2 separate regions of the Homo sapiens genome follow, and region 1 is reported to be linked to region 2. The links are microRNA targets in miRTarBase. Many come from high-throughput screens and were not tested one by one. Region 2 holds a microRNA gene; the other region holds the end of a gene's coding sequence.
Evidence for each region. The annotated mature microRNA hsa-miR-502-5p reads AUCCUUGCUAUCUGGGUGCUA and lies in region 2 at 2,274-2,294, opposite strand. An mRNA with a match to its seed (bases 2 to 7 or 8) in the 3' UTR can be bound and repressed. Matches are read on the target gene's strand: a 7mer-m8 pairs with bases 2 to 8, a 7mer-A1 pairs with bases 2 to 7 and ends in A, and an 8mer does both.

Region 1: miRTarBase lists RGP1 as a target of hsa-miR-502-5p. Seed matches in the 3' UTR shown: 7mer-m8 at 1,967-1,973.

The regions. Positions count from the first base shown.
Region 1 is chr9:35,752,518-35,755,517 of GRCh38, forward strand. It overlaps RGP1 (RGP1 partner of RAB6A GEF complex), which reads left to right. Exons shown (of 9, transcript NM_001080496.3): 9 at 134-3,000. The coding sequence ends at 357. MSMP (microseminoprotein, prostate associated) reads right to left here and starts at 1,759. Exons shown (of 3, transcript NM_001044264.3): 1 at 1,483-1,759; 2 at 1,143-1,251; 3 at 473-763. The coding sequence starts at 1,612. The coding sequence ends at 583. RefSeq lists an enhancer at 373-1,572.
Region 2 is chrX:50,013,382-50,016,906 of GRCh38, reverse strand. MIR502 (microRNA 502) reads right to left here and starts at 2,309; the gene lies at 2,224-2,309. The region is part of intron 3 of CLCN5 (chloride voltage-gated channel 5); the gene reads right to left.

The DNA.
Region 1 (3,000 bases), not on the chromosome of region 2:
CTCCCTGCCCTGTGACTTTTCCCTGTCTTCCTGAACACAGATTGTTTTCTTCTCATTCACTAACTATATCCTGTCATTGGCTTTTACTCCTGCTAGCTTCTGATGCTTCTACCTTAATCTTTTTCTTCCATAGTGTCCTTGAAGTGGAGATTGCATTTTGAATTTGTAACGTCCCGAGAACCAGGATTGGTACTCCTACCCCCTGTGGAACAGCCCGAACCTACCACCTGGACAGGACCTGAGCAAGTACCTGTAGACACCTTCAGCTGGGACCTGCCCATCAAGGTGCTGCCTACTAGCCCCACCCTGGCCTCATATGCTGCCCCAGGCCCCAGCACCAGCACCATAACCATCTGAAACTGGCCCACCCTGGTGCTAGTTCCTTCCGGATACTGAGAACTCAGCACCTGGACTCTAATGGGACCCACTTTTTCCACCTGGGGTCCAATGTCGTGGACAGTGAGAGTCGGGCTTTCAGCTATAGCATTAATTTATTTGTTCAGAATACATTGGCAGCTGCTAGTGGTTTCCCTGGAAGTGGCAGCAGCAGTGAGCAGTCAGCAGATGGATGATCAGTTGAGTTTAGCTGGAGTGGGGAGCAGGAGCCCCAGGAACAGGGGTGTTGGCTGAGCCCCATTCTGGGTCAGGCCCTCCCCCTTTGCAGGGCAGCCGAGGGTCAGATTTTTGCACCAAGGAGAACTGGCAGGTTCCTGCCTCCTGACGTACCTCACACCCAGCCGGGAAGTCGATGGGATGCTGGGACCTGGGGAACCAAGGATAGGGGAAGGAGTCAGCACAGTGAAAGGCTGCCTTTATCCCTGCCCACATGTTCCCTCTCTCACAGTTTTCCCCCCACAGAGCCCCTTTCAGTGGCCCCTTGGTCCTCCTAACTAAGCTGTCACCTACCATATGTGGGCCTTTTTGTTTTATAACAGGAGTATTTTCTCTCCAGGTCCACCCCAACCTCCCCTGATTTATAGCCTGAAGCCTTATCTTTCACACTAGTGTTGGTCCCTTCAGGTTTGGCCCATCTTGTATTGCTCTTCTGTTCATTCTTACATCACAGCAATCTAGTCACTCCCTGGTCATCCCTCAGTCACTCATATCAGAGTCATTCTCTCTGGCCATCTTTGGTCACTCACGTGTCACAGCAGCCCACGCCAACAGGATGCAGACAGGTGCAATGGAAACAGTCCTTGCGGAGCCAAGACTCACCCAGGGTAAAATATTTCCCCTCATAGTGACAGGGGGCTAGGGAAGAACGGGAAATGTTAGTAGGTGTAGGAGTGCTGATGAGAGGCAGAGGCTCTTCTGGTCTGGGGTGGAGACAGTAAGTACGCACTATCCCCGTATTTAGTTTGTCTTTCCTGTTTCACAGCTGGAGGAAGCCTGGGTATTTTGACACGGGATCATCTGTAAGGCCCCATCCTCCCTGTGCCCTCTCTGCTGCTCCTCCATTCCTAACGCTTCACCCCACTTTACCTTGAGCTTGGAAGTAGCACTTGCTGTAGACTCCTGGGTGCTGGAGGAGTAGAGACATCACCAAGCAGATGATCCCCCAGCCTCCTAGGATCCCCTTGGCCTGTCCAGCCCAGAGCATCCTTAGGGCCATTGCTGCTGCACAGCCCTCTCAGACCCTTCTTGGCCTCTGCTCAGCTACTCTGGTCTTGACTCCTTGACTTTGCTTTGCGTTGCTCCTTGAGTCTTAGTTTCTGTCTTTCTCCCCTGGGCTCCTGTCTCACACTATCTCCCTGCCCTCTGCTCTCACAGGCTGGGGATGTTTATAAAGTGAGGACCCTGGCCCCCTGCTGAGTAGAGCTGGAAAAGTTGTAACTCTGTTTCCTGAGGTGAGGGCATGAAAACAAGAGGTCTAGCTTTAACAAGCTGTGAGAGCTGATTCATGCCCCGGCACAGCTAGAGGGAGGGAGGTGGCCATGGAGGGGGCACTGGACTGGGCACTTCCCCAGCAAGGAGGCAGGAGGGGCGAGGGCCCCCAGGTGGTCCCCAGATCTCTTCCCTGACCTGGAGAGAAGGAAGCATTCCACCTTCCCCCTTTCTCCCCCACTGCCACCACCAGGGGTGTGTATGCTGGGATCCCTGCCTGGACCGGAGGGAGGCATTTCCTGGGGATGGTTAATCCTGTGCCCCAGCCAAACCCAGGAGCTGCAATAGGGTGCGACGGCCAGAAGCTCCAGGAGAGTGAGCAGGCACCTGGAGTGGAGACTGTGTTTCCCTCAGATCCTAGGGCAGGGTTTCCCTAATGTATCCAAGAAATAGGGCTGCCCCTCAGAGATGGTGGGGAGGGTCTCTTTTCCTCAGGCATTCCAGAGGTGAACTGTCCATTGCTTATCACCTTCAAACATACAGCAGATGTGGGATCACCCCACATCTGGGGATGGTTCTTTCCCCTTTCAAAGAGGAGCATCTCTAAGTGCCCTGATGGGATGAATCACTCCAGGTTCACAGAGGTGTCCTCTCTTTCCTCCCATATATAATGGAGTGAGGTTTTTAGGAATTTATCATTTGGCATCCTCTGAGTTTCCCACAGGTTCTGGAGGAGCCCAGGATGGATTATTGAGAGCATGGGCTGTAGAGACAGTCTTCTTGGATTCAGATCCTGACTCCACTTAGCTATGTAACCTGGTCAGATTACTTCACCTCTCTGAGCCTGTTTCCTCATCTATAAATTGGGGATAGTAATGCCAACTCATTGGGCTGTTATGAGGATTACTGAGATAATGCGTGCAGTGCTCTTATCACCATCTCTGGTGCGTAAGCGTCAGGAAATAGCAGTTGCTGTGATTGGGGCTAAAGCTCTGAGGCAAAATGGGCGACATTATTTTCTTTGAATGACATTAAGCAGTTTGTGCATAGCTGAGGGCTTCTATTGGGGATGGCTGTCTCCTGGCATAGACCTCTGCACCTTTCACACTCATACTCCTTGTCAGCAGTCCCCAACCTTTTTGGTACCAGGGACCGGTTTTGTGGAAAACAATTTTT
Region 2 (3,525 bases):
CAAGTCATGAAAAGATATGAGGAGCCTTAAATGCATAGTGCTAAGTAAAATAAGCCATTCTGAAAAGGCTGCATAATGTATGATTCTAACTATATGACATTCTGGAAAAGGCTAAACTATGGAGACAGAAAAATGATCAGCGGTTGCCAGGGGTTTAGGGTGGGGGAGGGGGGATAAATAGGCAGAACTCAGAGGAATTTTAGGGCAGTGAAACTATTCTGTATGATACTATAATGGTCATGCATGTCATTATACACTTGTCAAAACCCATAGAGTATATAACACAAAGAGGGAACTCTAATGTAAACTATGGTTTACATTAATAATTATATTTAAACTATTATTTAATAATAGTTATAATACATTATAATTATACTATTATTTAATAATAATGTCTCAACATTAGCCCATCAATTTTAACAAGTGTACAACACTCATGCAAGATGTTAATAGCGGAAACTGGGGTGTCTCGAGAATATATAACAACTCTATACTTTCCATTCAATCTTTTTGTAAACCTAAAACTGCTCAAAAAAGTCTATGAATTTTTAAAATATGAAAAGAAACTAAAAGAGCCATTTACACATAAGGAAATTTTGATGCTAAAAATCATCCTGTGTAACACAGAAATCCCCCTAGTAATGACAGAATAGAAATTTTAAGTCATTTAAACCAATGGTTCTCAAACTTCAGTGTGCATCAGAATCACCTGGAGGGCTGTTAAAACACAGATTGCTGGGCCCCACCCCTGACTTTCTGATTACCTAGGTCTGAGGTGAGGCCTGAGAGTTTATTTCTAACAAGTTCCTGGAGGATGCTGATGCTGCTAGTCTTGGGCATCAAGAGAGGTATAAAGTCTGATAAAATAAGACTAAGGCTGAGCAGTAACCAAAATGAGATTTTAGAGTATACAAAAGATAAGGAGCACATATTAAATAACCTGAATCTTTACTGCAGGTTAGATTGGGAGAATCTGGGAGAGAAGAAGGACCAAGGATCAGAATCTATAAGTCCCAAATGTTTAAGAACTTGAGGACTGAAATGGAGTGTGTGTCTCTTTCTGTCTCTGTCACCACTATTTATAATACTGTATTGCTACGCTGACCTGAACACTATAAATTTGCAATGGGCAATGAGCAAAAATGATAAGATGGGGAGGAATGAATAGATCAGCTTAGCTAAGAAGAGAGTAACAACTGAAGAATACTGCTGAGGTCACAGTAGAAAGCACTCAGGCTCAGGCGCTAAGGATGGGAGGAGGGGAGTGAATCAGATCATGGGCACCTGTACTCCCTAGGTGAGAGAGAGAGAGAGATGGAGAGACGGACAGAGAGAGCGATAGACTGAAACAGAGACATGTATAGTCCATCTCTATTTGACTAAAGTAAGGTAATATAAAGATATAGGCTGTTCTCATTTCCATATTGTGTGGGGTGCATACAAGATCAGCAATAAGAAGGGTCCCTTGCTCTTCACCCCCTCTAATTCAAGAAGAGTCTGTAATAGACATCTAAAGGCAGCTCACAGTTCTACTCAGGATGTCCTGGAAGATAAAGGGCAGCTTATAAGCTCAAACTCCTATACATTCTGTAAGTGTAAATCTTCATGAATGTGTGCATCTCCCTGTCCTCAGAGGGGACAGAGTGGGGGGAATAGGAAGACTCTCTCTTTGGCCCCCATCATTTGTGCCCGTCTGAATTTTTCTTCTAAAGCTGCCCATCAGAGAGCACATCCAGTGATTTTGACTCTCGTTTGTCACTGCATCCTTAACACTAAAAAGAGTATCTGTCACACTCTAGAAACTCAAGATATAGGAAGGCAAGAAAAGAGACATATATGCACTCAGTCCATATATATACATATAGGTAGGCAAGGCTCCATCTCATTGAATCCTTGGCTTAATACTTGAGACAGCACTCACATCTAGGTTGGAAGGAAGTGAGGGAGCAAATCAGAAGGCTCTGGTTCCCGCCCACCACCCTGTGTGTGGACAGCAGGTGGGGAACACAGAGAAAGCTCACTGTCTCACTCTGGATACCTGCATACATGGACATTATTTAATAAGGACATTTATTCTAATACACAGACAAGCCCACCAGAGCACCTGAAGTCCCTAACTATTCTGTTCTGTGCTTCCCCAACACACACCCATCACTCAAAAACTATGACAGGGGAGGGTGGGAGGGGTGATGTCTAGGCTCTCTGTCCTTCTTGGTACAGTTGAGCTCCCCCTCTCTGAATCCTTGCCCAGGTGCATTGCATTGAGCCAGCACTAGCACCCAGATAGCAAGGATTAGAGAGGGGGAGCAGGGCAGAAGGCTTGGGCACCTGCCGTGCTCGAAGCAGAGAAGGTTCTCTGTTACACAGCTCTGTGTGAGAACAGGAATGAGAGTCTTGCATTGTGTATATGTTGGGAGAGGGTGTCAATAAGAAGTCCCATGTTGTGGCCCACACTAACTCAGCACGTGCAGGAATATTAGGTGACAAAAAGTCAAGTCTCCTACACATATTCTTTGAGGCAAGAACCAAGTCCATCTTGTGTGATACCATATGCCCACTGCCCTGGCAGCACAGCGTTAGCATGTACTAAGTGCTCAATACTTGTGAAAGGGAGGTAGAGGGGAAGGAGAGGGAGGAGGAAGTGTGACTCACAGGCACTTTGTCTGTCTATGGGCAGAAAAAGGCCCCTCTGAGAGTCCTGGAATAGGTGCTGCACTGAGACAGCATGCACATTTAGGTGGCAAGGATACAAGGGGAAGCAGAGCAGCAGGCTCAGGATGTGCACACCACATATATTTGCACAGGTACCCATGTCTGTGGGAGGGAATAAAGAAAAGCCTGATTTCTGGCACCCTGAGCCCATGTATTCACAGGAAGTTGGATGACATGAGGATGCTTATTCTCCATGAGCCTGCTAGACAGTAAGGTCGGCATCTCTGACAGGTTAGTTTACTGTGGCATTCCCAAACAGCAGGAATTCAGTAAATTTGTTAAAGGGATGAATAAATGAATGGACCAAAAACATGCACACACAAATGACTGACTGAAAGAATGAACAAAGGAAAGAGAAGGGATGGACAGGCTCTGTCCTACACATAGGCAAGGCTCACAAGCTGGTATCCTTGCACAAGCCCATTGCACTGCTAAGACAGCACTTGTGCCTAGGCTGCAAGGCTAGGAGAGGGCAAGCAAAAATCAAAGTCCAGGCACCTGCACACCAGGCATGCATCTGAGTGTGTGTGGCAAGGAAACTTGCAGGCAAGTTTAGATAATAAGGCTCCTTCCTTTCAGCTTTGTACAGAAATGTTTCTACACTTACACATGTGTGTGTGCACATGCATGCACAATGTGAGCATGTGTATTCATAAGAGAATGAGAAGGCTCAATTCCTGACACACCTGTGTCTGTTGCCTAGGCCTGGGGAAGTCTAGGCACCTAATACCTCCACTAGATAGGAAGTCCCGGAGAGAGACACTGTCCATTATTTAGCAGGGTACTCCCAGCACAGCTCATGGCACATCAAAA